7 linked regions of the Homo sapiens genome follow. The protein of the gene in region 2 purifies or fractionates together with the protein of the main gene of each other region. This does not show direct contact. Each region holds a gene or a part of one and is shown on either strand. Other genes may lie near its edges. The genes, in order: HHIPL1, SCPEP1, ITIH2, STAP1, SLC26A6, C15orf39 and ZNF507.

Region 1 (4,754 bases), on a different chromosome or scaffold from region 2:
TCCTGTGTGTGTCAGTCTCCTGAAGTGATGAAGGGGATTTTTGAGACTGGGCCTGTGACTTGCCAACTGTTTTTGGGCCCAGCATCCAGCACAGGGCTGCCTCCTAACAGGCTCAGGAAGAGCCTGCTGAATACATGAGCCCATAGAATACATTTCATGGAGATCTCCATCAGAAACCATGCTTTGATGATTTTAGTGGCTTAGAGAGGCAACCCCAGTCACAGGGGAGGTTAGCGATGTGGAAGCTCACACCAGATGCACTGGGGATGCCACGTGCCATGGCTGTCCTCTCTCCTCCAGAGGACACAGGCACTTACTGGACAAGCAAAGCCTCAGGAAAGAGTCTCCCATCCCCCCAAAGCAGGTGTGAAGGCCTGAGTGCCTCCACACTGACAGAGACCTATGAATAAGGCACCTCCACCACCTCCCCGTGTGGAAATCAGGAGGTGCCAAATGCAGACTCTGCCTTGGCTAGCAGAGAGCATGGTCCTCCCGCCAGCATGCTCCAGGAGGCCCCGTCAGTGAAACCATAACCCAGCCTCAGCCGCCGTCTCTAAGCTCACTCCAGACATGAGGTCACTCTCAGAGACGCCTGGGCTGAAGTGTTAGTGGTCACTCCTGCTAACTGCTGGTTGCTTAAAGCCAGGCTGTCCTGGGAAGTTTCCCAAGAAACCTGCCAGGGGACAGCATCAGGACTGACCCTTCCCTTCCTCCATCCACCTGCCCACCTCACTGCCGTGCTGAGCCTGGCACATAGCAAGTGCTCAATAGACAAATGTGGCATGGATGCAGGAACTCTGCTATGTGATGGGGGTAGGGAGACCAAAGGACCTGGTCCTGAGGAGCCCCCAGGCTGGTGAGGGAGGCAGACGCTTGGCCAGACCATTCCCGTGCCCTTGAGGTGTACAGCATGGGAGTCCAGCAGAGCCCACCTAAAGGTGGCCAGCCCACCCTCTGTTGCATTCTGGAGCTCCCCAGGGCCCCCTCCTCATCCTCCCAGAGTCTACTGCTTCCCACCTAAGATATGAGCTCGCTTCAGCGAGTGTGGTCCATGTCCCCACCTCAACCACCGCTGGGCTGTGCGACCACTGGGCAAGTCCCTGCCTGCCTCTGAGTCTTCCTTGATTCGGGCTCCAAGCCTCACCTGGACCCTTCCCAGGGCTGGGCAGCCAGTGAGGGCCAAGGAAGCCCTCGAGAAATCCAACTGCAAACACTTACCGAGCCCCTAGTATGTGGCATTTAATCTGCATGGCCACCCAGGGGGGTGGTTAAGGTTTTATTTTATTTATTTTATGTATCATATTATATCATATTATATTATATTATATTATATTATATCATATCATATCATATCATATCATATCATATCATATCATATTATATTATATTATATTTTTGAGACGGAGTCTTGCTCTGTTGCCCAGGCTGGGGTGCAGTGGCTCAATCTTGGCTCACTGCAACCTCTGCCTCCCAGAGTCAAGTGCTTCTCCTGCCTCAGCCTCCCGAGTAGCTGGGATTACAGGAGCTCCCCAACATGCCCAGTTAATTTTTGTATTTTTGTAGAGATGGAGTTTCGCCATGTTGGCCAGGCTGGTCTCGAACTCCTGACCTCAAGTGATCTGCCCACCTTGGCCTCCCAAAGTGCTGGGATTACAGGCATAAGCCACCATACTCAGCTTCATTTTAAAGATATTGTGAGGTGCAGCAGTGACCTGCCCAGGTCACGAAGCTGGGGAAGTGACAGAGCCAGGATCAAACTCCAACTCCAAGTCAGCCTTCTTGCCCTTCCCCACACCACCTGCCCCTGCTGGCCGAAGGCTGGGACACGGCCCTGGCCCCTGGGGCCTCTCCACCCCAGGCCTCTCACTGCCCAGATGCTGAGGCAGGAATGCCTTGGGGCTGCCCGTCCTGCTCCATTTCTGCATTCAGCCAGGCAACATTTGCCCACTTGGGTGTGGTCAGGCCCTGGGGCCTCAGACTCCCACAAGAGGAAAACAAATAGCGGTGGCACCACCAGGTGTGCACAGAAGCAGGGGCTCCACCCTCAGAGGGAAGATGGGGGGCCCAGGGGCTTCAACAAAGAGCTGTCGCTCAGTCTTGAGAGAGCTTCTGCAGGCCAGGGCGCCATCCCCAGGAGAGGGCACAGCACCCACAGAGGTGGTGGCGGAAGTGGCAAGGGCATCAGGATGGGGGTGAGACGCTCGTGGGGGACAGTGGCCCCAACCCCCTCAACAAACCCGGGCCACACGTTGACCACGCCCACGCCAGGGCCCCCTGCTTTCACTGCCCCGGGGACAACACAAAGGAGCACTGACCGGGACAGATGCCTCTCCACCTTGGTACCCCGACAAGGGTGCAGCTGCTCGGGGTGGGACGCTGAGGGGTCGACTCCAGGGGACTGGGGCAGAAGAGCCCCCAACCTCTGAGGAAATGATGACATCATCTGTCCGTCCGTCCGTCCTTCCTGCTTCAGGAGGGGAAACTGAGGCCCCGAGAAGGCCCAAGTCACAAAACTAATGAATGGCAAAGCCAAGAGTCGTCCTGGGATGCGCGGTCTCCCCGCCCCGTGCCAAATGACTCCCTGTTGGGGCTTAGAGTTCCCGAGTCCGCCGCCCACTCTTGGCCCTCGCCCCCGCGGGGTTCCGATCTCTGCTCCAGGACTCGGCCTCCCGCGCCCCGCCCCGCCCGGTGGCCGCGCGCCCGCTCACCTGGCACAGCAGGTCCCTCGCGTAGCCGGCGCACGCGGCCCACTCGGCGGCGTCCACGCGGCTCGCCAGGGCCCAGAAGCGGCGGGTCAGCTCGGCGTCGCGCCCCTCATCGCAGCAGCCGAAGTCCGAGTACTGCGCGCAGAGGCGCAGCGGCTGCGTCGGCCGGAAGGGCGGCCTGAAGTCCAGGCACTGCGGATGCGCGGCGGCCCCGAGCACCCAAAGCGCCAGCAGCGCCCCGGCCCTGGCCCGGGCCATCGCTACGCCCCGCGGGGGAAGAGGCGGAGGGACGGCAGCCCCGGTCCCCTCCCGGGGCGCTCGCGGCGGCAGGGAAGGGGCGGGCGCTCCCCTTCCCTACACGCAGGGCCTCGAGTTTGGGGACCTCCCCTTCTAGGAGGTCACCTCTGGTCGGGGACACTCGGCGGGACTGAAGGAAGAGGGACGCGGCGCAGAATGCGGCACGACCTCTTTTAACCGCTTTCCAAATTCGATGGGAGTGGCCCGGTCTGTTTAAAGCCCCGGTGTGTTTTCCCGGTTCCGCCTGGGGCCCTGCTTCCTCCCCACAGGGCGCTCTTTAGCCAGGGAGGCGCAGGGCCAGAGGCCTGGACTCCTGGGCTTCGGTTCCACCTCCCACTGGGCTAGGGAAACGGATGCCCGCAGCCCGTCCCCGAAAGCTCCCACGTAACATTTTAAAAATGGGGGTGCGAGGGAAAGAACAGGGGGTGTTGCCCCAGGACTCTCAGGGAGAAGTGAAACCTGGCGTAGGGGTGGGGAGGGAGGACGGAGCAGTCTCCGCAGTCCACCCTTTGCCCTTACTGTGGGCTTCTTCCCAGTCTCTGCTCCTGGGGCAGCGGATTCTCCTGCAGCCCAGGACCCACTGGGGCTCCCCACTTCCACTCTCGCATAGGGAGCACTGATGAATCTACCTCCTGGGATGGGCATCCAGCCCTTTGTTCCGCTGCCCCCGCTGGAGATTCAGACCCAACCCCGCCCCACCCCCCCACACACATACAGACGCACACACGCTGTCTTACCTACCCCAGAATCTCATGGCACCAAAACCACCCACACAGACAAACACACACACACTGTCTCACCTACCCTAGAATCTCACAGCACCAAAACCACCCAGGCATTTTTCTCAAGTGGACCTCAGCGTTTGCTTCTCCCTGGAGTGTCCTTCCCCATCTTCTCTGTCCAGTGAGCTCCTACTCCATCTTCATGGCCCCAACGCACACATCCGTCCTCTGCAGGTCTCTTTGGACTGTCCTGGGGGATCATGTTTCTGTCTTTGGGCCCATGCTCCTGGCAGAGCTGGGGGTGGATGAGATGCGGCAGGGCTGGAGCACTCAGAGGTCTGTGGCTCTGGCCTGAACAGGTGCAGTGTAAGAGTCAGGGTCTCCGCACAGCCAAACATCTCTGAGTATTTGAAACACGGGGAATTTAACGCAGGGACTTGAAGCCAAAGAGGCTAAGAAGCCATACAGGGCTCAGTGAAGTAACCTTGAGATCAGCAACAGTAGGAACAGTCCCCAGGTCCTTGATGCAGGAAGAGCAGATGTTACTGGAGCCAAGGAGCTATGGTCACCTTGTCAAAGCTGGACCCTCACAAGGCCTGTCTGGCCACAGCTGGAGATAGCCACTGTCAGAGATTCTGCACAGACAGAGGAGGAGAAATACCCCGGCTTCTCCCTGCCACTTCCCCTCCAACTCCCACCTGTGGCTTTCATTGGCTGAACCTAGCAGAGGGCTGCTAGGGTGGGAAATGCGGCCTGCAACGGCTTCCTGCACAGACAGCTGGGAATAGGCAGAGCCAGGATGGAATCGGAGGGCACGATGGCGCCTACTTCCCAGCTGGGACTCAGAACTGGGTGATAGTCACACATCAACACAGGGCTCCAGATGAGTGTACAGAGGTGGAAGTGACACAGAGCCTGGGCCACAGCCATGAGGTTTGGGCTCCTACAGCCACAGAAAATGTCAAACACAGCCCAGCCCCAGCCAGAGTAACATAAATCCTCACCCTAATACCTATTTACCTCGGTTTCT
Region 2 (4,033 bases):
ATAAAGCTCTAGACCAATGCCAGCTGCCATTTTTCCTCCATAGGACTCTGAGAAAATGTAGAATGGAACTGTCTAGCAAGAAAAGGAATTACACAGAATTAACTACCTTGATTGCTTTTTGAGTCACACAAATTAATTTCAAATTTCTATTGCACGTAATGACCAGAAAAAACAAATCTGCTTTGTCTTCCTCCCCCACCACTCCATATCTGATTATTGCGTCTGATTAGAATGCTCACTCCAAGGTCATTCTTTCAAGTTAAATATCAACTTTAGAGATGACAGAAACAAAAGTCCACAACCCAATCTTGGGAATTAAAAAGTTTTCTCTGAAATCAGCTAGGCATTAAACTCTGGAGGCAGTTCAGGTTTATGCTGATGGATGTAGAGTTGATATTGCCAGCCCTTTACTTAGCTGTTCCTGAGTCTTTGCTTACCTGGAATTCTTTGTGGCAACTGAAGAAGGTCTTCAGGAGAACCATCATGTCTGAAGCCACCATAGCCAGGTCCTTGGCATAGGCACCACTACCATTCACATAACTGAACCCAGTGCCCACGGGATTATCCACAAATAGGAGACTGGCAGCCTGGAGCTATGTACCACGGAGGAAAACGAAATGTTGCAATCAGACATTTGGTCACCAATCATCTTTGGATCATTTTCTACTAGCTCAGCAAAACCCACACATGTGAGGATACCAGCGTGGTGATGATATCCCTGTTGCTAAAAGAGATTTTTAAAAATAAGGGACAGGAACATAGAAAAAAAAACAAAAACAAAGAAAGGCCAACCGCCCCCGCCGCCGCAAAAAAAAAAAAAGGGAGAGGCAGGAAGGAAAGATTAACACACACGGGGATCAAATAATCTGGGCTGTTGCTTTTCATACAATACAAATGTACTAAATGTAATAAACTAGCGCAGAAAGAAGCATGCAGAGACAGTCTATGCACTAACTCGAAGAAGCCAGAGGACACTCAAAGTCTGGACACACATCAGTTTTCTTGGAAATGCATCAAATTTCCACATTGTCCTGGCTTCTCTGTACACTGCAAGAGCAGAATTTATTCTAATACCTTTTCCAAAGAGGTTGAAAGTTATAAAATTTACATATAAAAGATCCTGAATAATGACACAGTCCAGCCATGTCCCTTGCTGATGAGGAAATTAAAGCCCAGAAAGAGCCCAGAATGTGCCTAAGGTCACAAGATCGGACAGGCAGTGGCAGCATCAGGACTGGGACCATGGTCCTCACTCATATGGCCCTTTTAGTTCTAGGAGGCTTGGGGACAATGGGGGTGGGGAGTGGAGGTAGGGGATGACTCTACAACCACTCCTGGAAGTGAGACTTCTGTTGGAACCAAGCACAGGAAAGGCCCAGGCCAAGAGGACAGCATGTACAAAGACCCTGAGGCAAGAGTAGGAAGCACTTAAGAAAGACCAGAGGCCGCGCACGGTGGCTCACGCCTGTAATCCCAGCACTTTGGGAGGCTGAGGTGGGAGGATCACGAGGTCAGGAGATCGAGACCATCCTGGCTAACATGGTGAAATCCCACCTCTACTAAAAATACAAAAAATTAGCCAGGCGCAGTGGCGGGCGCCTGTAGTCCCAGCTACTCAGGAGGCTGAGGCAGGAGAATGGTGTGAACCCGGGAGGCGGAGCTTGCAGCGAGCCGAGATAGCGCCACTGCACTCTGGCCTGGGCGAAAGAGCGAGACTCTGTCTCAAAAACAAAAAAACAGAAAAAAAAAAACAAAGAAAGACCAGAAAGTGGCCGGGCACAGTGGCTCACACCTGTAATCCCAGCACTTTGGGAAGCTGAGGCAGGTGGATCACGAGGTCAAGAGTTTAAGACCAGCCTGACCAGCATGGTAAAACCCCGTCTCTCCTAAAAATACAAAAATTAGCCGGGCGTGCTGGCGCATGCCTATAATCCCAGCTACTCGGGAGGCTGAGGCAGGAGAATCGCTTGAATCCAGGAGGCAGAGGTTGCAGTGAGCTGAGATCGTGCCACTGCACTCTAGCCTTGGTGACGGAGGGACATTCCATTTCCAAAAAAAAAAAAAAAGAGCAGAAAGCTTAGCTTCTAATGCGAGAGGGAGGCTGGAGGAGGAGCACTGAGGAAAGTGGAGAACATTCATAGCAATAGGTGCAGCCGGGAGAGTGGGAGCACAGAGAGAGGAACAGCCACAAGCCCTGAGTGGGGCCCACGCTGTGCAGCAGCCCCAGGGTGGGTGTGCAGTTCTGCCCATGGGCAGCCTGGGCGTAAGGGCTAAGCAGGTGGACAGTGGGAGTGACCCAAGGCTGGGTTTGGCAAGGCTGTAAAGGGAGAAGGATATGGGAGTTGACCACAGAGGGGTGAGGGAAGGAAGAGACGATAAGAATGAGGGGGAGGTGTGAGAAGGGCAGCAAGAGAGACATTGAAAGGGGAAGTCAAGATACAAGTAGGAGGATAGGAGAGAGAGAAAAGGACTGGGGGCTGTGGCTGGAGGGTGCAACCATGGTGTCTGAGGCCGCGGAGATGGCCAGCGTGCATAACACAGGGTCCCAGGTGTCTGCTGTAGTAGGTTTTTGAAGGCAGCTGGAGAGAGGGGTTGTTTTGGAGAAGGCGAGGCAGACTGGTGCAAGATAAGCTGTCCTGAGAAATGGGAGAGAAGCTAGGCCAGAGAGGAAGCCTGCGGACAAGTGCCCATGGCCTCAGTAGTCACAGGAAAAGGAAAAGGACAGCGAGGGATTGCTACATTTGTGGCCCCTCCCAGAGTTGGGCAGGGCCTCTGAGAGGCCACGGGGCAAGGTTTAGCTCAGGACTGTCCTCACTGTACCCAGGTGGTTTTCCGTGGTTTGAGATCACTGTCAAGGGGCCCAATTTCCTCAAAGTTTCCAAATCCAGTGCTAGAACCGCCTGGACCGCCCTATGGAAGAGAGAAGAAACAAACAAAAATTTTAGTCAGATCTTAGTCTTTACAATGAATGACCACATTTGCTATAGATGGTTTATGAGTTAGTGATGGCTGGGTCAATTTGCACAAAAGACACAATTTCTCTAGTGAACCAGGGACTTCCACATTAGCAAAGCTCCCCTAGTAACTGCTGAGGTTTTTCTCTGAAAGGAGCAGAGCTGAGCTAAGAGGTCCACAATGGAATGTTCCTGACTCCTGATTTTTTCTTTTCTTTTCTTTTCTTTTCAGACAGAGTCTAACTTTGTCACCCAGGTTGGAGTGCAGTGGTGCAATCTCGGCTCACCACAGCTTCTACCTCTGGGGTTCAAGTGATCCTCCCGCCTCAGCCCCCTCAAGTAGTTGGAACTATAGGCGCACACCACCATGCCCAGCCCGGCTAATTTTTGTATTTTTTGTAGAGGTGAGGTTTCACCATGTTGCCCAGGCTGGTCTCAAACTCCTGGGCTCAAGCAATCCTCCCGCCTCAGCCTCCCAAAGTGCTGGGATTACAGGTGTGAGCCATCACACCCAGCTGCCTCCTGATTTTCTGAGCTGGAGCCTTGGCCTGCCGTAGGCCTTGCTGACCTGAAGGAGCTCTAACCGGACTAGACACTGGGCCTTCTGACTCTTCCTCCATCACCCTCTCCCCAGGAGATGGGAGACTCTTCAGAGTCCCTGTGGATTGATAAGGGACCCAGACTTAGAAGCAGTTTGATCAAGCAGATTCTGTGGATATAATGCAGCAGTTTCTAAAGTCCCAGGGCAGGGAGAGTTTGATACTGTGAGCATCCATGGGAGAGGGAAAGGCAGGATTCTGAACCACAGCTCGGTGTTGGGGGCAGTTCTATGGGCTCTGAGGGCTTCAGAGAAAAAAGAAACTAAGAGGCAAATAGGACAGGTTGGGTGGGCTTTCTAATTGAGACAAGAGGAGGCTCTTTGGGAGGTGGTCAGGGGAAAAGATGGTCAGTGCTTTTTCTGGACAAATCCAGGGGCCAATTGAGGTGGGGAGTCTATGAGAAGGGCCCTGTCAGCTGAGGCGAGGGAAAGGGCAGAGGACCTAGAATAAAAGGATATGGCCTCTCTGTGCACTAGCAGG
Region 3 (3,500 bases), on a different chromosome or scaffold from region 2:
TATGTATTTTGTAGAGAGCTTTTTAAAAATTCTATGTGATTATCACTAGAGTCATTGGGTAGAAAGTGGAAAATATTTGAAGTATAAGAAAGGACTCTTAACAGAGCTGTCAATCACTGAGTTGATTGCCTTGGGAAAAGTGAGTTTATCATCAAGGAAATCATCACACACTTGTCAGCGGTGTTATAGAGGAGGTCAAGCACTGGATAAGTAATTAGATTTAATCTGTGGTTCTCAACTTGTTTTTTTTTTCCCATAGAGAAACATATGGCAGATGGCATTGACCTGCTGTGCACACGCTCTTATGTGGTTTCCTATAAGCCAGGGCAACCCAGTATATTTTTCTCCTCCCTAGAAAGTATATTAAAATGCAAGTAAGTATGAGGTTGTTACCACAGAGATAGCCTTAAGTTTGCTTTAGCTTATTAGAAACAAAAAGCAAATAATTCACAAGTTCTAACGCTTTGAAGAGGAGAAAATTATTGGGACCAACCTCACAATGACCCTTGACATCCAGCCGGTCCTCTGGGACAGTTGACCACTAAAGTCCATTCTAACTATGAGGGGTTTTGATTCTGTGAGTAGAGCACCTACAATTTCTGGCTCTACACAGAAGTTACTCACATGGAGAAGTTGGAAATGAATGCTCCTTTGGGGATCTGAACATCAAACACGACATTCTGAGGCTGCGGGGAATTGTTCACCACTTTGCTCTGGATCATGGTGGTGGCCATCCGAGAAGTAATAGTAGACTGGACTTTATAGCTATAAAGAGTTACTTGATCAACCTCTTCCTGAAATTGGCAAGAAAGCATAACTGTACTGATAGAAAAATCACACAGAACTTCATCAAATGTAGTGCATTTGATGTTAACAACACTACATTTTACTTGTTTTACTAGCAGAACAATTCCAGGGCCTTGGTAAGGACAGAATTCATGTATGGTTAAGCATTCTCCTAACTTCTTGGAACCCGCAATGAGCAGAAGTCTGCCTTGGTTTCAAGATACTTTGAGCTAAAAGGCATTTTTCAGCCCTATGAGTCTATAAATAATGATTTTTCAAAAATTAGAATACAAGTAGAAAACGGTGTGGGAAGCCAGATTGGATTGAGGAAGTCCAGGTAATAACTCCAAATGCAAGACCATCAGCTGGGGAGAGGATACTGGATTGCGAGGTTGAAAGAGGAACTTGGTTGTATCTTTAGTAGGGGTCACACAGGGGTGCTGTGGGGTGGAAACACACATATGGCCTCCACCAACCCCCCCTTACAGCTCTCTACCTTCTTTAATCTCCTCTATTACAATTTCATCTGCAGTCCTTTTCTCCTCCCCCAAGTCAAAACAAGCTAGGAGAACAGTGACGGGTGTAAGCAAGAGACATTGATCTTGGACAGGGCATTCTGATGCAAGTATTGGTCCAACACTCTGGACCTCCTTACCCGATCACTACTGATTTAAAGCAGCTCCTGTGTGAAGAATCACATATGTAAGTGTGCTCAAAGGCAAGGTCCTAGAAACCCACACCTTTCAGGAGGTGACTGAGAGCTGCAAGCTCCTTCAGGTCTATGGACAACTATGAGACCCATTAGATTTTGCTTTTTTCTCCAAAAGAATTTACTTATCTCAATACCAGGTCTCATTCCCCAAACTTTGTAGTCCAACATTAAACCTTTCGACTAATTAACCATGCAACTCACCTCAAGCTAAAATAAAATCCAGGCTAATCTATGTGTCCTTCCTCCCCCTGAAGTGTGCACTTCTGGCAGTTTCTGCCAATTCAGGGCAGGAAGCACAACATAAGCCACTTGTCCTCAGGCTGTTTTCTTGCCACAGGATGGTCTACTCTGAACATCTCAGGGAACTGGGCCGTTTTGTGTTTAAAAGTTCCTTTCCACGGGCACTCTTTTATTTTCCAAAGCTGTCAGGTGTCATACTTTAAATCAAAATGGTGCTGGAAGCAATGGCTCATGCCTGTAATCCCAGCACTTTGGGAGGCTGAGGGAGGTGGATCACCCGAGGTCAGGAGTTCGAGACCAGCCTGGCCAACATGGTGAAACCCCATCTCTACTAAAAACACAAAAATTAGCTGGGCGAGGAGACATATGCCTGTAATCCCAGCTACTTGAGAGGCTGAGGCAGAGAATCTCTTGAACCCAGGGGGCAGAGGTTGCAGTGAGCTGAGATCATGCCATTGCACTCCAGCCTGGGCAACAAAAGTGAAACTCTGTCTCAAAAAAATAAAAATAAAAATGAAAACGTAAAAATAAATACATAAATCAAAAAGGTTGAGTAGGAATAAATACATAAATTTATACAGTGGGAAGGAACCTATGATATATGGCAAAACTCAAGAAAATGAAGAGAAGGGCCCCTTCAGCTCTTGGTGGCCTCTCTCCTGTCTGTAAAGACTGCACTCTTCAATGCTGAATTTTAGAAACACTTGCAAACAGTTGGGCAAGGCAGTATTTCGAAAGTCAGGTAAATACTCGGTGATGAAGAAAAAAGAGACACCCAGATTGATTTCCTGGTAATTATTAACAGGAAAATCATTCAATCTGTAACAACATCAAGTCAACTTACCATCATTTCTTCCGATTCTCCTGGAAGGCTTCTCTGTGAAAGGAAGTTAGACAATCATTCTTCAACTGTATGTCACTTATTACCTTGAGAGCCAAAACCGTTTTCTCAGTCAAAAAAGAAATTTTATTTTTCTTCAATACTGAGCTGTTATTCATTCACTGGAGTTGAGACATAAATATTGAATATTCTTGAAAACTATTTTCCCACTGGTGAGTTTCTCAATAAGTTTCTCAACCAGTTCTGGTGGCGTGTGTGTCATTCTTGGATATAATGCTAGAACAAGTAATTTTTAAATAAAAATATTCAACCAAATGCATCCTGGGTAGCGTATATCCCCTTGATGCTATTTGCTCTATTTTTTACTCAGTTGAATGGAGACTTTGATCCTCCATTCGGCCATGAGGCTGTGGGCATGCTGTTCCCACTGTTTGCAGTGCCCCTGCTAGGTTCCTCAACCCCCATATGGAGAACTCCTACTCACCCTTCAGATCTCAGCTCCAGCAGAATTCCTCCAGTGAAAATCTCTAACACCCCAAGACTAGGTCGGTTTCCTTTACTAAGTGTTTTTGCAGCAGCATATTCCTTCCTGCAGAGTGCTCACCTTGTTTCATAATGATTCATTCTATTTGAGGGATTATTTGACTAAAGTCTGTCTCTTCCTTTAAACTAAGCTACATAAAAGCAGGGATTTTCATGTATTTCCTCCACAGTGTAACCCCTGAGGCAAACACAGTGACTGGCACCTAGAAAATTCTATGCTTTTAACCACCATGCTAGGAGATTATCCATACACTTGACTGTCCTGAGGAAATGAACAAAGGCGATTCCCTTGCCTTTGAAAGTGAATGGCTTAAGGGTGGTGGGTGAACATGTAATGTTTGGTGAGCTGTTAATAATAGATCCAAGAAGTCGGGTGTT
Region 4 (4,644 bases), on a different chromosome or scaffold from region 2:
CTTCCCTTTCCTTTCCTTAAGCAAAAGTCTCTCCCTATGGCCACCACAGCTAGGAATGTGCTGGGTCATACCTGAAGCCAGCACAGCTCTGGGTCTCAACCCAAGGCCCACAGCAAGTACTGCTTGGCTACTGTTGATGTTTATTCAAGGCTCAAGCATGCTTTAGTCAGTAGGTGATGAATACTGCCAGGACTGAGTCCTTCCCTTCAAAGCAGTAGATTCCCTTCTGGCCCAGGGCGTGTCTAGAAATGCCCAGAAGCTAGGGCCTGAAATGGAGGCCTCATGACTCTGCCTGATGCCCTGTTCTACTGTGGGTGAGCTGCTTTCCAACTGAGTTGCTTTCCAAGTTTATGCTCCCCTCTTCTCTACTCAAGCAGAAAGGAGGAGTCTTTCCTGGAGTTGTGCTGCCTGAGATTGGGGGAGGGGTGCCACAAGCACTCCCCTGGTCACCCCAGCTGGTGTCTCACTAGGTCATGTGCACTACATGTCCACTGGCTCCAAGCCCAGCACAGCACAGGACTTGCCCAGGACCCTCAGTGTTTGTGGCCTAAACTGCCTTTCAAATTTATTTCGAACCCTAGATCACTTTAGCCTGTGGTGTTGAGACTAGTCAGAGCTCAGATTCTGCCCACTGGGATGGATGATTTCTCTCTGGCAAGAGCTGGTCTAAATGCTCCCTTCTGTGGTCCTGGCTGAATTCTGCCCTGTGTTGCTTTCTACTGTGACAAGTAGCACTGAGTTACAATGCAAAGTGCCACAGTCACTGTCTACTTCTTTTCCTAAGCACACAGATTCTCTCTCTGCACGAGCAGCCACTGCTGGGAGATGGGGGAAGAGACCAGGTTGGCAATTCAAGACTATTTTTCCTACCCTCTTCAGTGTCTCTTTCCTTGCTATGATGTTAAAACCAAGTACTGTAATTGCTCACCGGATTTTTGGTTCTTATTAAGGTGCTTTCTAGTGTAGACAGTTGTTTAATTTGGTGTTCCTGTGGTGGTGGGGGCTGATAGCTGGAGGGTTCTATTTGGCCATCTTGCTCCACCTCCTCTCTCCATTGGGTTTTTATAGCTTTTCTTTGTTGAGAACATCTATCTTTATATTCATTTCAAGAATGTTTATGACCACCTCATGAAGCATAGCTGCTTTAAGGTCTTCATCTGATAATTTCAACATCTTGGTTATCTTAGTGTTGGCATCCATTGTCTTTTCCCTTGAAAACTGGGGAATTGGTCAAATTCCTTCTTTTGTATATCAAGTAATTCCTGGTTTTTCATATATCAAGTAATTCTGAATTGTGTCTTGGACATTTTGAATATTATGTTGTGAGCCTCTGGGTCCTGTTAAAATTCTCTGGTGCATTTTTTAAAAGCAGGCAACCATCTTGATTAGATTGAACCAGTTCTCTCTTACTTTCTGTGGGAAGCCATTCCAATATTGGTTCAGTTTTCAAAGCTTCTGTTATGCTGTTTTGGGTCTGTATTCAGCCTGGGACTTGGTTGTGGTTTATGCCTTAGTTTAGCTGTCAACGCCTTTGCCATCTGTTTTGTATCTGGTTCTGTGCATGCACAATTCAGAGGTGAGCCTGGAATTTGTGTCACTTCATACACAGAACTAGGAAATAACTCTTTTCCAGCTGTCACCTCTCTGGGATTTCTCCATACTCTCGAGCCGCCAAGGGTCCTTTTTCCTGGTGTTCTAGCTAGAATGATGGAGCTTATTAATGACACCTGTGCTGTAATTGCAGTTCTGTGAGACTGCAGTTGCCCAATCTCTCCAAGAAAGTTAGAGATAAGAAAGAGAAAAATGTAATTCCAATTCTCCCCTCTGCCCACCTTTCCTGATTTCTCTGGCTGGAAGGCTAAATTTTCTCTTGGGGTTTTAGGTGCCCATGCTGTCACTGCCAAAGTACTGCACCTTGACTAGGGGCCCCACCCTCAGGGCAGGGCCAGGGAAGAAAAAATAGACAATACAAAAAAAAAAAAAAAGCACCTTAAGGATTTTAGAAACAGACAACCAGATTGCTATTGGTATATGACTGAATGTGTTCAGTTTGCTTTGTGGTCGGGAACAAACTACTCAGCCTCCCCCTGCATTTCAGATGCCTTTGTTATAGGGACTGGGGAATGACATAAGAACAGATGGAATTAGAGGGTCCTGTGAAGAAAGACTTTAAATAATTAGAATATTATCTGTAGTGTAACGTATTTTCTTTCAAAAGCAGAAAAATGATGGAAAAGTACATGACAATGAAAATAGGACTTTTTAAGAAAAGCTACACAAAGATAAAAACTTATCTTGACAAATAATGCTGATATTTTAAGAAAACTTTGTGGAACCCTAACATTGCTTCAGGAATTTGGACTCATAGCTGGCTGTGGCACAGTGAGACTGCTAGTACATCAAACTTGGGAAATGGGAGTTGTAGAGCAGGTAAGGGTTCCAATCTGGAGATTTGGAAAAAGCTAATATGTAATAAAATATTATCTAAAAGAAAATAAGATTTTTTTGATCCCTGTTAACCCATGTCAGCATTTGGCTCTCTCTTACACCAGAAGACAAGAGCAATAATGGAACAAGAATGGTCAAAGATATTTCCCAACTCCAGAAATTAGCAGTTTAAACTAAAAGCCGCTTCAAAATATAAGGCCTATTAAGCTAAAGAGGAAGAAAAAAATTATTAGGTACAAAGTTACAGGTCCAGGATAAAATAAAATTTAAAAAAGCATCTGAATATTCAGTATTTATTTTCCTAACAATTACTAAACACACCAGCAATGTTCCACACACGAGCAGGAAAATCAACTCACTGAAAATAAAGAACCACCGTTTTCTACAATATTGGTTCGCTAATTAAGTTTTTCTACCCACAATTTCTAGGTCAAGAACCCAGTATGGAAGGGAGAAGTGAAAAGTTGAAGAAAAATCCACACATTGCATGAAATACAATGTGAAAGCTCCTTTGTATATCTTGGTAATTTATATTTTCAAAACGAAGTTCTTACTTTTAAAGAGAATTACCTATATTCTCCTGATACTGATTACCAAGTCATTCACCTGAACACCAGAATTAGAATTAAACATTGTACCATACAATTTCATTATCTTATCAGAATGAAACCAATTCACAGGGAAACTAGAGACTACGGCTGTGGTGGTAACCTGCAGATATACACATTCCCATGCACTGACATAAGTTGAAAACACATAGTACTTTCTAGATGGAATTTTTTTCTTTAGGCCTCAATGAAATACATTTCCCCTATATAATTCCAACAGCAGTTTCTCTAGTTCTAAATTTTACCAATTCCCAAAAAACCTAAGTTTTGCTGAAATCTGATTTGACCAATTTATCAAATATGTCATTTTAATTACCTAGCTGGAAGTTAGAGACATGAAATGTACTAGAGGAGCCCTTTTCCAATGGAAATATTATATACCACATTTTTTGTTAATGGAAATAAATGTCTTCATTCCCATGTTTTTCCCTGGTGTCATCTTTTTGCCACTCAAAATCAGCCCATTATTTCCTTACAAAGATGGTGAAAGGCTGTATCATCATCTTGTCGTAAGTACGATGAGCCTGATTATAAGTACCTGGAGTTCTTAAAAATATGGAACCATCAGCCCCAGACTGCATCTACTGAATCAAAATAACAGGGATATTTTTTCATAATTTTTTTCTTCAAAAGCAAACTTCTAAATTGATTTTGATGGTTATCAATTTGGGAATCACACAATCAACTAAGAATGAAAAGATATGGTCTATATTCTACAGGGGAAAGACTATGTGAGACAGAGGGAGAAAACAGCCATTGACAACTCAAGGAGAGAGGCCTCGGGGGGAAAAAAAGATCAACCTGGCCAAAACCTTGAAAATCCGGCTTCTTGACTTGTGAGAAAATAAATTTGTGTTCCTTAATCCACATGGTCTGTGGTATTTGTAATGACAATCCTACCGAACTAATTCAGTGAGCTTCCTGGGATGCCTGAAAATATGAAGAGTTCTCTCAGACTTACTGAATTATAATTTTGGGGGTGGGGGGGCGGCGCTGAGGCTGGTCCAGAAATCTGCCTTTTAAGCATACAACACAGGTAATTGCTATACATAACAAATTTGAGAACCAGTTCTTTAAGATCTACTATAATATGAAGATAAATAATCTGTGTAGCAATATATGCAAAATCAAGTCAGGCTTTCTTTTAAATGGAGAGGCAGTGACAATTAATAAGGAATCATAAATATGACAAATGAAAACATTGAGAAATGCTTTTCTCTATGTCATTTTGATCTTTTAATTTCTGGAGTGTGAAAATACTTTATTAAATTTCAAATGAGATTGTATTTTAGTTTAAACCTGACAAAAAAGTGTATAATAAATATGACCCAATGTTTACTTTTTGTCTAAAAAAAAAATTGGGACATAAAGCCTGAGCATTAATGTTAAGTATTTATTGAAATGTATTGAGTATTTATATAAATCACTGTTAATGTAAAAATTATAAAAGCAGCACATATGTATTATTCTCAAGGGTTTTACAATTGAGTTGGTCAAAATATAGGTAGATGAGACTAAAGAGCTCTAATTTCTTATCATTTCAAAGTGTTGAGTGAATTCTTGCATTCTATAAGAAATTAGAGTGCTT
Region 5 (4,033 bases), on a different chromosome or scaffold from region 2:
GCGATTCTCATGCCTCAGCTTCCCGAGTAGCTGGGATTACAGGCATGTATCACCACGCCCGACTAACTTTTGTATTTTTAGTAGAGGTGGGATTTCACCATGTTGGCCAGGATGTTCTTGAACTCCTGATGTCAAGTGATCCACCTGCCTCTGCTTCCCAAAGTGCTGGGATTACAGGTGTGAACCACCGTGCCCGGCCCGGTCATGCTTATTCTTAAGCATAGAGCAGCAGTGTGGGGGAACAGCTGCTCCTAGGTGTTCACTCTGTATCCTCCAGGGACTGCCCATTGGCACCCACGCTGCCCTGTACCTTCTCGGGTATTCCTGAGAGCAAATTATTCCTGAGAAGCAGCTCTGGTTCCAACTGTTTCACATCTGAGGAGACAGCGAGTGAGGGCTATGCATGGCTGGGGAGAGACCTTAACAGGGGATGCCTCCACAGCTCCCCTGCTCTGTACCCTAACCTCCCGAGTCCTTCCTACACCTTCTGCCCCGTCTCACCTTCAGGGCACAGGAAGGGTCAGCAGCCACAGCTGTGGACCACCCACCACCAGGGCCCCACCAAGCCACAGCAGAGACTGGAGTTGAGCAGACAAATCTTTATTCCTGAGGCTAAAATATGCACCAGTTCCCTCCCTGTACCGCGCCACTGCCAGCCTGACTGCATGCAGGCCCTGTCCCAGACCTGGAGCGCTGAACTTGGAGTCCCAGGACCTCCTTCCCTGAGTTGTGTGTGTGTACATGGAGGGGACTCCTGGGTAGCACCTGGAGGCGGCCTAGGGGTGAGGGGCTTCTCAAGGGTGCCCTGCACCTCCAGAGGTGCAGTCTTGGGCAGGATGTAGCATGTTCAGAGTCTGGTGACCTGAGCAGGCAGAGGAGGGGAGGCTCTAGTCAGTTTCCAAAGGACACAGACCAACCCCCGCCCCTAGAACAGCTTTATCCAAAGACAGCGGAGAAAGCACTGGGCCCACTGGGGACAGAGCCATGGCCACCAGGAAAGACTCCCTGGAGCTGGGGCCAGGGTGGGGACAAGCAATAGATTAACAAAAAAGAGCTTGGCAGGCCAGAGGTAGGCTCACCGAAACAGGGCTGTCGGGGACAGGCCTCGGGTGTTGGAGGGCAAAGGTGACAGCATCATGGACAGAGGCAAAGAGATGCTTCTTGGTGATGGATGCATCGAAGAAGTGCCCAGCCTCAAGCTGGCTGACCACAGGGCCTGTGGGCAAGAAGTAGGCCTCCCCTGACTCTCAGAACCTCTAGGAACTCAACTCCCGGGAGCCAACAGAATGCCCTGACCTCATCACCCCTGACCTCCACCCCTGAGGCTACAGCTGAATCCACATCACTTGTAACCCTGGACTCCTGTCTCCCAGGACACCTCTGACCTCCAGTTCCAGAGAAAGACTTTTTCCTTGTGCTACTTGGAAAACCCCTTGGCCAAAAGTATCCTACCCTCTTCCCAGGTCCCTCCTGCTGTTCCCACCCTACTCACTGTGGCAGGCCGCCATGTACACCTCCACCTCAATCTCCCGGAAGTCATGGAAAATCTGTAGCGGAAAAGGGGGCCAGCCTCAGAGGGAGGCTCAGGGACTCAGAGGGGGGCTCGGGCAGGCTTGGGGAGGGAGTTTAGAAGGGGAGCTTTGAGGGTTTGGGGAGTCAGAGGCTGGGAGTGCTCTCAGGGCAAATTACAGGGTCAGTGTGGAAGCTCGAGGGGCCTTGGCCTGCCCCCGTCCTTACATTCTTCAGGCTCTTGAGGCACACAGTGTCCACAAAGGAGAGGGCACCCAGGTCCAGGATGAGGCTGTGGAAGTCTGGCTGAGGCAGGCCCAGGGCCTTCAGTGTGGACCCATCTGGGGCCTTGGAGTCTTCTTGACCATTGGCTGTTGCATCTTCCATCTTATCTCCTGAGCTCACCTGCTGGGGAGCCAGACATGCTGCCAGGGCCACCCATGAGAGAGTGAAGGCAGGACTGGCCGCACACAGACACGCGAGAACACGCAAGGTCAGATGGGGAGCATGCATGGGACACATAAGGACACAAACATGCGGGAGTCACATAGGTGTGCAAAGACAGGAATGACAGATGTGTGGGGACATGCAGGAGGGCACACCCAGATGTGCATATACTGCTCTGCTACCTCCTGGGCCGACGCTGCACAGGGACACGAGAAGGGAGTCCCTGTCCCATTCTCATCAGCCAGGGCTGAGTGGGGAGGGGGCCCAGGAGCAGGCCAGAATAGACACGGGCATCCACATGAAACGCATGCAGACACCTCGGCACCCTGCCCTGTCTCAGTCTCTAATTAAGTTTGGCATCCTCTTTGACCCCTCAATTTTTTTTTTAGAGACGGGGTCTCGCTTCATTGCCCAGGCTGAATGCAGTGGTTATTCACAGGCACCATTAGAGCGCACTGCAGCCCCGAGCTCCTGGGCTCAAATGATTTTCCCGCCTTAGCCTCCCGAAGAGCTGGGACTACAGGCGCGTACCACCACGCCTGCCTTTGACCCCTTGATTTTCTCCCATATACCCCATCCCTTTCCTCTACCCATGAGCAGACTCTGGGGGAAGTCTTGTGGGATCTACAAATTCAAGGTCTTCATCTAGGCCTGAGAATCTAAGCCTAGATTCTGTGGCATATCACGACGCTCCCTGAAGAATATCTGACCCAGCCTCCCCACTCCTCCTGCCATCGGCGCAACACCCTCGAGCCCACAGCTGCTGGGTCCATGGCATTCCTCATGAGACATGTGGATCCTGCATCTCTGCAGCTCACAGCTGTCACCTCCTTTCCCACCTCCAGTCTCACCATCATCTTGCAGTCCTCAACGTTGTTGCTCCTCATGTCTTCAAGGCTGGTGTTGACATTAATGGAAACTGAGGCGCCCTTGGGGGAGGCAGCCTACACCAGGGAAGACAGGGAATGGGAAACAGCTAGCCCGGCTGCCATGACAGCCATGTCACATAGGCCTGGTGATGCCCCCTGGTGCTGGGCAGGTGGGTGGGCCAGGACCAGAAGCTGTGGGACCTGCAGCAGCCAGGCTGAAGCTCCTGGAACAGCCGTGAAAGGGAAGAGGACTGTGACGGTTCTCACTGTCACTGGTTCAGATGATGGGAGAGAAAATGCTGCCTAGAGCCCGGACCTGCTAGGGGAGTGAAGCAGGGTCCCTGGGAGCATGAGGGAGAAAGGGGAAGGGATGAGGAGTGAGGACGAGGGAGGAGTCGGGGGCCAGGAGAAAGGCTGGGGCAGGGAACAGGGGGCAGGAGATGGGGGTCACCAGACAAAAGGGGCCCTGCCTGTTTCCGAAGCTTCTCCTCTTTCTGCAGTTGCTTCAGCTTCAGCTGCTCCTGCTTCTTGAGCAGTTTCTTCTTCTGGGAGATGAGGAAGTCGACATCCACACCACACTGGAGGCAAACATCAGAGAAGGGTTGGTGAGCTCTCTGGGAGCTGGGGCCTGACACCCATCCTGGGGACTCCGTCTCACCCTCTGCTTCAGCGCATCACTGTAGAACTCAGCATTGGCAAAGTACACGGTGGCCGAGGAGCGGAAGACCTTCACCCCCCGGACTTCCTTGGCCTGGGGATGAGGCAGAACTGGTGGTGGCTGAATCTCCTCTCTCCTGGCTGCATCCTGTTCTCCTGCCTTTCCTTCCCTAGTGTGCCCAGTGCCTGCCACCGCCCAGCCCTCTGCTCCCCAGGCTGCAGTCCAGGCCCTCCCAGGGGCTTAGGCCACAAGCCCGACGGTGTCATCCCCATCCCCCCACAGTGCCTCTCCCTCCCCACCTCTCCTGCCACCACCCAGGCAGGCTTCACAGGCTCTTAACCTTTCTCTTGGGTTTCCAACCCCTGCCTTGTGTTCTGTTTTCTGCACCCAGACAGAGGTCCTCCTAGGCTGTCATATCAATCAGACCTTCCCCGCTCCCACCCCATTCGGGTCACAGCCCGGGTCTCTGCTGGGCTCCAGGCATGCATGGTAAGGGCTGGGCTGCCCCCTCATCCTCTCCCATGTCTCAGACCCCTTAATTCCTCCCCGC
Region 6 (4,623 bases), on a different chromosome or scaffold from region 2:
GGCCCAAAGCCAATGCTGAGATACTGGACTTGGCTCTGGAGAGCAGTCCCCTAGGAGAGGTAACTGGGGACATCAGTCTGTACAAGCCACACCCCTCTCGCCCCACTCCTCCCCCTCCGCAGGAGTCAGGGCAGCCCAGCAGATGGTGCTGCAGCACCAGCAGGAAGGTCCCAGAGCATGAGGAGCCTGGATCCACCCCCAGCCCCCAAGCTGCAGATGGCGATTCCTAGGCACATGGCAGGGTGGGGCCAAGACAGCGTCAGGGGCGTGTGTGAAAGTCCAGGGAGGTGGCTAGGTGCTGTGGCTCACACCTGTAATCCCAGCACTTTGGGAAGCCGAGGTGTGCGGATCATTTGAGGTCAGGAGTTCAAGACCAACCTGACCAACATGGTGAAACGCTGTCTCTACTAAAAATACAAAAAAATTAGCCAGGCATGGTTGTGCATGCCTGTAATCCCAGCTACGCTGAAGGCTGAGGCAGGAGAATTGCGTGAACTCAGGAGGCAGAGGTTGCAGTGAGCCAAGATTGTGCTACTGCACTTCCAGCCTGGGCAGCAGAGTGAGACTCCACCTCAAAAAAACACAAAAAACAAAAAACAAAACAAAAAAAAAGAAAAGAAAAGAAAAGAAAAAAGTCCAGGGAGGGAGGCCCCAGGGGCCAGAGTGCTACTTAGCCACTACTCCCATTGTATTGATGGAAAAACTATGTGCTGAAAAAAGACAAAGCTCTAAGACAAGACCAAGGAAGGATGGGGACTGAGGCCCCTCAGGGCAGCAGGCACCCAGTAACCCGTTAGGGGCTCATCTGAAGCCTGTCTTCTGGGGCCACACTGACCTACCTCTACCTCCCCCAGCCAGCACCCTATTCCTGGAAACTCTCAGTAGCTTAGAAAGGACCACCTAGCTCAATCTTGCTATGATTAGGGCAAAGTGTCACAGGTTTCAGTGACTGGCAAGCAAGGACCAGCCCTCTCCTTGCCTCTTCTGGTTGGAGCCAATGACAGCCACAGGCTGAGTTAGACCGGCACATTTTGGGGTTAGAAAACACAAGGCTAGTGTGGGGGCCAATGCCCACTTCCACCAAGGCAGACCCAGAAAGCAAGCTGGTTCATCTCCTGGACAGAACCCCACACCTCAGGCCAGCCTAGAGAAGACACAGAGGGGCCATTAGGACACAGGTGACAGTCCCAACAGCAGTGTCCTATGATAGAAACCTGCTATCGAGGGGTGAAAGCCCCCATCTCACTCCACAGCAATGCTGTGAGAAGGAACTGTAGGGTTTTGAAGTGTGGATCCTCCCCACCTCCACCCTTGGGACACTCTGGGTTAAGTACTGACTTTGGTCTCACCTCCCCCACATGCTTCTTGGGGTCTGCTGGGTCCCCACCCCCACCCCAGGAGTCCCTCTCTCCTGGGTCTCAGCCCATGGAATACCCTTTGCTCTGGAGACTTCTTGAGGCCCCTATCTGGGACCCAGTCAATAGACAGGAAACCACCTGGGACCCTCAGGAGTCTTTGTGGGAGGGGTGGCGGCTTCAGGGAGCCAACAGAGAACTCTTAGGGGTGTGGGAATGACCTGATCTCCTGCCAGTAGGAGGTGGAAAGCCCAGGATACACTCTCTCAAGGGAGACGACTCCTCCACTCAAGACAGTTGCCAAAATGTAGGTGCCTCCTTCCCTGACCCATACTGAGGCAAGCAAGCTCTCGGAAAGGGCAGGTGCCCAGGGAGCAGGCTCAGATCATCCTTGAGAGGCAGCTCTGTTGATCCTCTCTGCCAAGCTCCAACGTCACTCAGCCAGCACCCAGGCCAGGGTCCCGGAGAAGAGCCCACCACCGCAGCACCGCCCCTGCCTTACGCAGTGGGAAAGGAAACAGCTCTCTGTTCCCACTTTCACCTTCTAGGGGCCTCGGGATGGCCGATGGCAAAGACCAGGAAGAAGAGCGCGATTCCTGCCCAATTGTGGCCAGCATCTGGATTCTCCCGGAGGGCTGGATCGGGCCTCGCCGAGTGTTCTCCCATCTCCCACCTTCCCTACCTGAGGCTCTGGGCTCTCCAGACGCTACAACCCAACCTGGGGCAGCCCAAAGTCTCCAGTGGAGGGGAAAGCGAACGGGATCGGTCTCTATCCCCTTTCCCCTACCCGCCCTGAACATAACTCGGGTGCCTAGGGCCCACAGCCGATTTCGCTTAGAGGCTGCCGCCGCACCCGACCTGGCGGGCTTCCGGGTGTCCCCAAGCCCCTCCCGGCGGCGCCGAGACGCACGTGCATCCAGCAGGCTGACACACAGGCCGCCGCCACGCATGCAAACCCGTGCCTGCACGTACGTGCATGGCCCACATCTGCACACACGCCATTCCAGAACTGCGCTCTCCCCTCGCTCGGGCCCCGGGCATACGTGTGCACGCAGGCAGGCCCGCGCACCCAGCCCCACACCGACGCCCGCGGACCGGCGGGAGGTCCCGGAACAGGGGCGGCCCGGCGACAGGGTCCGGGCAGCCTCCGCCTCAGGGCGATCCTGCCAGCCTGGGCTGAGGCCAGAGGGGTGAGTCAAGAGGTGGCGAGAAAACCGCAGGGCCGTCCCATCCCAGCAGGGCGCGTCCAGGGCCCCGCGGTGCCTCAGCGCCCGGCGCCCCCAGGCCCAGCCCTCCAGTGCCCCCTTGTCCCCATACCTCCTCCTCAACGCCATCCCCCAGCAATCCACGTGACAGGGTCCTGCGGGAGGCCGGAGGGCTCGGCCTGAGTTCCTTCTCGCCAGATTAGGCGCCTGTTCTCCGCCGGAGACCCAGAGCGCTACCAGGTCCCGGGAGCCTCGAAGTCCGGGGAAAGTCGGAGCAGCAGCGCCACCCCTGCCCCGCAGCCCGTTCGCGGGGGGCCGGCGGCAGCCAGAAGCCGCAGCCCCTCGGCCCAGGCGCGGCTCCCTCAGTCCCCGGGCCGGCCGGTAGGGGCGCCCTGGGGCAGCGCCACCCGCCCCTTCTCCACGCGCCGCCCGCAAACTCGGCCCAAGTTTCCGCGCCCGCCGAGCGGGCGAGCTCCTACCTGCAGAGCGCCAGGACTCCCGCCGCCGCTACCCCAGGCGGCCTCCGCGTCCGCATCCTCCAGCGTCTCTCAGGCCGCGGGTCCTAGTCCGACCGGGCCCTGCGCGGGAAGTCGCAGTGAGCACCAAGCCCGGAGCAACCCTCCTAGCTGCCGTTCGCGCCGCCGCTGGGCGCCGTCTGCGGTCCCGGGCGGGGCGGGCTGGGGGCGGGGCGGGGGCGGGGCGACTCGCAGGGTTGGGGAAGAGCCCGGCCCCGCCTCTGGGAGCCTGCGCTCCTGTGGGCAGCGGGTGCGGAGGGCCCGCGTGGGGCCAGCTCGCTAGGAGCGGGCTGCGGGCGCTGTGCACCGCCCGTAACCGCCACGCTCCACGAACCAGTGCCCGGCGGGCCCGTCACGCGCCCTCAGTCGCTCCCTTAGATCGTTCATTCACTGCCACTTGCTGCGATGTGACCTTGCGCCTGCCGCTTGACCTCGCTGAGCTTCAGTTTCCTTATTTGCAAAAGTGGAATTCTGTCTTCCTCATAGCGGTGGCGGTGTAAGCTTGGAAAAGGGTGTTTGCAAATATCTGGCACACAGTAGGTGCCGGCATTCCCCTGTCCAGCACTAGTGTATTAGGGGGCTGGAGAAGGGCTCCTTGATCTGTCCCCTCATTTCGTTGTAGTCAATGAGGGCAATTTCCAGACTCCTGCTAGGGCACGGCAACTGTCTGAGGAAGCGGCAATCTCCCCATCCCTGGAAGGGCCGGGAATGAGGGTGCTGGGGGATTTGCAAAGTAGCCTGGGTGAGGCTCCCTCCATGAGGCAGACCGGCGCGCAGCCTGTGAGGCGGGTGGAGTGGAGCACGCCCAGCCAGGAATGGTGTGTTGCAAAGAGAGGCTGGAGGGGGGAAGGGGTGCCTCTCCCTGGACCATCTGACTGTGGATGAGAGCCCCTCAGTGCTGCTACTTTATCTGAAGGAATCTGGTCCGTCAAAGCTCCTGGGCTGCCCGAGGACTGGGAACAGGTGTGTGCAGTGGGGAAGGGGAGGGCAGGTGGACATGCCAAAGGTCAGAGTCAGTTCAGGAAGCAAAACTATCCCCTCAGATCCCAAAGGTAAGTTCTGCCTGAGTCAGAGCAGAGCAGGCCTGAGGCTGCAGGTTCCAAGAATCACCAAGCAGCTGGAGCAGCTGGAGCTGAGGAGGAGGGGCTGGGCGCTGCAGGTAGGAAGAGGAAGTGAGGTCACCTGGGGAGCGGGGGCGGGAGGTGGGGGGAGAGTGTCACTTCATTTAGAGCTGGAAGGACCTTAGAAATAGAGTCGGGAACCATATAGGGAGAGACACTCAGAGAGGGTTGGGGCTTTCCCCAGGTCACTCAGCAGGCTGGGACAAAATCCCAGATCTCCTGGCTCCCAGCCTGGGGCCCTTCCTGCAGCCACACCTTAGCGTCAGGAAAATACATCTGCGCGCGGACAGCTAGGGGTCACACCAAACATCATACCCTTAACCCCAGCCTGCAGCCCCGTGGGTCACAGGCTATTCACTGCTCTTGCCCCTTACCAACTCTGCTCGCCCCTCCTCCTCCAGCACCGCGCCGGCGACCCTGTCCCTGC
Region 7 (4,517 bases), on a different chromosome or scaffold from region 2:
TTAATATCTTTCTCACAAAAAGTTAGGAGCCAAATTATTTCAGTTGTCTTTATTTCCTTATAATTTGCTATTTGGTTATTTGGGTATCTAATTAGTTCTTTATAATTACAGTAGTATGGTCATCATGAGTAAAATCAAGTTGAACAATTCATGTGGGCCTGGAGAAAAGGCTGTAATTTTCTGTGTTTATATGAAGAAAAGTACAATATGATACAAAAGAACCTTCTCTTTCAGAACAAGAATTTGTTTTTTCCAAAATGGGAAAAAAAAAAAAATTGTGCTATAAAAGTAATGGCCAATAAATTCCCCATTCTTCCAGATTATTGTAATTCTAAAATATGACAAATTTATTTTGCTCCAGCCAAAAGAAGGCAGGGGACATAAGCTCAAGGGTCCCTCCCCTAAAGTGCCCTCAATTAGCTGTGTGACCTTAGGCAAGTCACTGTCTCTGTGAGTTTTAGATTGCTCAGATGTAAAACAAGAGGGTGAAGCTAGATGAACTTTCAGGTCCCTGAATTATAAACTGTCTATAAAGTTACCTGGAAACTGCTTACACATTATTTATAGATTTACCTCACTATATTGGCTACAATTTATTTGATTTAAAATCTTCTGAGCCCAAGGTAATTATTAATTACCACTAAGAAAAAAATGAGTATAAATATCACAAGTATATGGAGTTTCATAGTCTAGAGTTTCTTAGTTGGCACATAGCCTGAGAGAATATTCTAATTTGGCAGCTGCAATGAAGACATAAGGTCTAACTAACATTAACCAATATTCAGATTTACTGTCATTTATTGAGCACCTATAATGTGCCAACCAGAATGCTGGGGACTACAAAAATGACTGAGGAAATCCTTGCCCATGAGGTGCAAGTCTAGGGAGTAATGCCTCTGTAGATTTTGTGTAATATTCAAATTTTGTGTATTTTTTTTTTTTTTGCAGATGAGAAACCTGAGACTCACAGACACAAAGTGGTAACTGGTTTAAGAACAGGAATCCAGGCCAATCTCACTCTAAAACCATGCTTTCTCTAATACACCAATTTTCATCTTAATTCTCAATGAGAATAAAAATGTACAAAATATCAATACTGAAAAGAGTAACAGCTCCTTACAGCTAGGCTCTATCAAACATGTTAGTGGTATCTGATCCTCATAACTCTTTAGGACAGGCTAGGTGGGTGTTATACAGTCTTATAAATAAGGAAACACTCAGTGTGGTTTAAGTGACTTACCCAAGGTTACATGGCTGTTAAGTGGCAGAGCCAGTGTCTTTCAAATCAATTCCTGAAATTAATACAGTCCCTTGGATCAATCTTCAAAATCCAGCTGTGGCCAAGAACGAAAGTATATAGTATCAAAACATTTCTCTTTCTTGGTGAAACAAAGTAATGATTTTTTTTTTGGCAGTGAAAAATTTCTCAATATTCCATGTAAAAAGAAATTCAGAGGAATGTTCATGCAACCCTATTACGTAATGCAAATTTAAATAATTTATCTAACAAGCCGACTTGAGGATTTTGCAGAAGTTAGGAAAAAATAGCTCTGGAAACTTCTCCCAATAATTGTGTATTTTGTTTTACCTCAGAATTTAGGTACTGGACTCAACACTATTGGTTTTACTGACAACATTTTCTAATGAGAATGGAACAATAAATTGCACATTGCTATTTTAATCTAAACTAAAAATACAATCTAACGAGTGATTCTGCAACCAAGCACAATAGGCAGAAAAACAGCATAAAAAGATATGACACAGTGGTGTGACCTATATATCTTCTAACGCAGTTTCCTACTCTGGTCCTACATTTCTTTGCCACTGTTTCTTATACTGGCTGGAATAAATCTAAAAGATAAAAAAATGCTTATTCGTTTCACCTAGAATGCAACTACCTTATCGATTACGGTTAAGTAAAATAGCTCACTGCCAGGGCAGAAAAAACATCTTTAGGGCTCCCCTGAAGTTAATTTTCAACGAGTTAGTGAGGTAAAGGAATGAAGGGCCAGGCTTTCTTTTAATCAATAATGCAACCCATACTCTGAGTGAGAGGGGAGTACTGGAGAAAGTGCAAACTCAAAGAGGTGATAAATCCAGTAATTGCCTGAGAAGAGCGATGCAGACTGATAGCAAATTACAGCCCACTGCAGAAACTTAAAAATACCGCCTTGGGGTTGGGAAAGTGGCCGCCACCTTATTAATCATCCCGGCCTTCTACACAAACCATTCATTCCGATGCCCCCAGGTCTTAAGAGGTGGGAACTTTCCCTGATGGTCTCCGTGATCTCTGGAGACATCATTCTATCTCCAGAGGATGGTAATAAATGCAGAAGACCAGGGCTGCGTTTCTGTAGTAGCTTTTTCTACACCACGCACTGGCTAAAGGACTGAGGTGATGGGTCGGGAATGAGGGAGCTTAGAAAATTAATCAAAAGATGCTGTGAGAACATCGTGGCTGGGTCCATCCCGGCTGGCCTAAGCGATCTCACATTTGCAGAAAGAAGCAACGCCTGGAGAAGGAAGCAACGCCTGCGGGCGGGCCGGGCTGGTGACAGTATGCAGGGAGCAGCAAGTTCCCCCCACCCCCAGCTGCAGGGCAAGCCCAGAGTCTCCGCAGGCCTTGCTGCACAGAAGACAGAACCGGGACACGGAACTTGGGGCTTGTGGCTAGCACCGGGCGGGGGTCGGCCGGCTGAGGAGGAAGCGAGCGCCGGCAGAGGCCTGAGGGGAGGATGCACATGGCCGGCGGCGGCGCTAACAGCGGGCGGAGGGGCGGCCCCGGGGCGCGGTACCTGCGGTCAGGCGGCGGCTGCTGCTTCCGCGAGCCTCGTTTGGCCAGCCAGGACCCGGCCGTGCCCTCGCCCTCGTCCTTGCCCACCTCTCTCCCGGCTCTTTTCCCTCTTTTCCCCCGGTTTCCCCCTCCTCATCCGGAGCTCCAAAATGGCGGCGCTGGGGACGGATCACGTGAGCCGCGGGTGGGTCAGGTGACCCGAATGGCGGGCAGCGGGGGCGGGGCGAGGCTCAGGCCCCGCCTACCGGCGTCCCGGGCCGCCGAGGCTGGACCCGCGAGAGGGAGGCTCCCCAGCCGGTTTAGCCCCTTGCAAACCCTGGCTCCCGGGCGGGGTTCGGGCCCAGTTGTCTGGCTCTCATGGCCCCTTCCAGACGTCTAGATTTAGAAGTCACCGTGTATTCACTTTGGCATCTCCCCACGTCGCCTAAATCCGCTGTGGGCTAGCCTTATCACCCCACTCACCCCGCAATTGGCTTTCAACAATGGGCATTGGGGTTTTTTTTTTTTTTTTCTTTAGCCTTGTGCTTCTGGATTTGTATTAGTTCCTTTGGTAGGACTGTACATTTCAAGGTGTTCTTGGCTAAAATATAGAGGTCCTAGCCAGATTCGCAGCTTGGCGTTAAGGGGTGCCTGTTAAGGGCCAGAGCTGGCCCTGGGGAATCTCTTTGCTTGAGAGATTCAGGATTTTCAGGGTTTGTAGGACCAGACCCAGTAACACAAGCTCAGCCCTCCGAGGGCACGATGGTGTTTGTCATTCGGATCTGTTCTATGAAAGATACTAGGGTGGTTCTCCTGCTAACAGTGAAAAACGGACTAAGTGAAGCATTCCAGCCAATTTCACCAAAAATGCTGGATAGTTTTGCCGTATTAGGAACTACGCAGCATGGTGCTTGGGTCTGGACTCCGGGTGAGCGGTGGGCATGAGCAAGGGTGTAAAACTGAAGATTCTGGCCATTGTAGTGGAATGGACTCATTTGGTGAGATACCTCTTGGGGATCTGTTCCAGATCTTTTTAGAGGCCTTTACAGCTGGCTGGGCTGTCCACGGTCCTGGGAGGAAGATCCAACAAAATTTAGAATCAGACAGGCTGATAATTCCTGTTACTGTATTTCAGAATTCAAATTCATCTGAATTTGGGGGTTAGGAAACCAGCAAAGTTAGAATTTTTATTTTTATTTTTATTTTATTTTTTTGAGTCAGAGTCTCACTCTCTCCCCAGGCTGGAGTGCAGGGGCGCAATCTCGGCTCACTGCAACCTCCACCTCCCAGGTTCAAGTGATTCTCCTGCCTCAGCCTCCCGAGTAGCTGGCACTACAGGGCGTGCCACCATGCCCAGCTAATTTTTTTGTATTTTTAGTAGAGACGGGGTTTCACCATGTTGGCCAGGATGGTCTCGATCTCTTGACATCATGATCCGCCCGCCTCAGCCTCCCAAAGTGCTGGGGTTACCGGCGTGAGCCACCGCGCCCGGCTGCAAAGTTAGAATTCTGCTATTCCACAGAATCCTTTGCCAATTAGACCAAATAGCTGTGAAAAAATAAAATGTTGAGTAATTTTTTTTTCGATAAAAGGTAAGAGATTGAGCAGGAGACTAGCATGGAAGGGTGGAAAGAAAAAACAGTGAAGAAAACCCAGAAATACGAAGTGTTGAAAGGGAGAACAAACAAGTAATATGAGAAATTCCTTGCCTTGGGCTATTGGCACAAACAATCCTAACTTATCA

The links.
Region 1: the proteins of SCPEP1 (region 2) and HHIPL1 purify together in Homo sapiens (co-immunoprecipitation; one large-scale study listed by IntAct). This does not show direct contact.
Region 3: the proteins of SCPEP1 (region 2) and ITIH2 purify together in Homo sapiens (affinity purification with mass spectrometry; one large-scale study listed by BioGRID and IntAct). This does not show direct contact.
Region 4: the proteins of SCPEP1 (region 2) and STAP1 purify together in Homo sapiens (affinity purification with mass spectrometry; one large-scale study listed by BioGRID and IntAct). This does not show direct contact.
Region 5: the proteins of SCPEP1 (region 2) and SLC26A6 purify together in Homo sapiens (affinity purification with mass spectrometry; one large-scale study listed by BioGRID and IntAct). This does not show direct contact.
Region 6: the proteins of SCPEP1 (region 2) and C15orf39 purify together in Homo sapiens (affinity purification with mass spectrometry; one large-scale study listed by BioGRID and IntAct). This does not show direct contact.
Region 7: the proteins of SCPEP1 (region 2) and ZNF507 purify together in Homo sapiens (affinity purification with mass spectrometry; one large-scale study listed by BioGRID and IntAct). This does not show direct contact.

What each region holds. Positions count from the first base shown.
Region 1 is NC_000014.9:99,643,417-99,648,170, reverse strand, and holds the start of HHIPL1 (HHIP-like protein 1 isoform a precursor), read right to left. Parts: upstream 3,043-4,754; 5' UTR 2,964-3,042; coding exon 2,709-2,963; intron 2,483-2,708; exon of another isoform or gene 2,316-2,482; intron 1-2,315.
Region 2 is NC_000017.11:56,984,255-56,988,287, reverse strand, and holds part of SCPEP1 (retinoid-inducible serine carboxypeptidase precursor), read right to left. Parts: intron 2,911-4,033; coding exon 2,821-2,910; intron 594-2,820; coding exon 438-593; intron 73-437; coding exon 1-72. UniProt on the Homo sapiens protein: May be involved in vascular wall and kidney homeostasis.
Region 3 is NC_000010.11:7,706,316-7,709,815, reverse strand, and holds part of ITIH2 (inter-alpha-trypsin inhibitor heavy chain H2 precursor), read right to left. Parts: intron 2,616-3,500; coding exon 2,583-2,615; intron 795-2,582; coding exon 625-794; intron 1-624. UniProt on the Homo sapiens protein: May act as a carrier of hyaluronan in serum or as a binding protein between hyaluronan and other matrix protein, including those on cell surfaces in tissues to regulate the localization, synthesis and degradation of hyaluronan which are essential to cells undergoing biological processes.
Region 4 is NC_000004.12:67,603,419-67,608,062, forward strand, and holds the end of STAP1 (signal-transducing adaptor protein 1), read left to right. Parts: intron 1-2,877; coding exon 2,878-2,939; 3' UTR 2,940-3,919; downstream 3,920-4,644. UniProt on the Homo sapiens protein: In BCR signaling, appears to function as a docking protein acting downstream of TEC and participates in a positive feedback loop by increasing the activity of TEC.
Region 5 is NC_000003.12:48,625,139-48,629,171, forward strand, and holds the end of SLC26A6 (solute carrier family 26 member 6), read right to left. Parts: intron 3,577-4,033; coding exon 3,484-3,576; intron 3,404-3,483; coding exon 3,296-3,403; coding exon of another isoform or gene 3,277-3,295; intron 2,901-3,276; coding exon 2,808-2,900; intron 1,935-2,807; coding exon of another isoform or gene 1,918-1,934; coding exon 1,738-1,917; intron 1,548-1,737; coding exon 1,493-1,547; intron 1,217-1,492; coding exon 1,080-1,216; intron 863-1,079; coding exon 848-862; 3' UTR 585-847; downstream 1-584. UniProt on the Homo sapiens protein: Apical membrane anion-exchanger with wide epithelial distribution that plays a role as a component of the pH buffering system for maintaining acid-base homeostasis.
Region 6 is NC_000015.10:75,200,476-75,205,098, reverse strand, and holds the start of C15orf39 (uncharacterized protein C15orf39), read right to left. Parts: upstream 3,218-4,623; 5' UTR 3,040-3,217; intron 1-3,039.
Region 7 is NC_000019.10:32,344,062-32,348,578, reverse strand, and holds the start of ZNF507 (zinc finger protein 507), read right to left. Parts: upstream 2,970-4,517; 5' UTR 2,796-2,969; intron 1,335-2,795; 5' UTR 1,241-1,334; intron 1,095-1,240; exon of another isoform or gene 949-1,094; intron 1-948. UniProt on the Homo sapiens protein: May be involved in transcriptional regulation.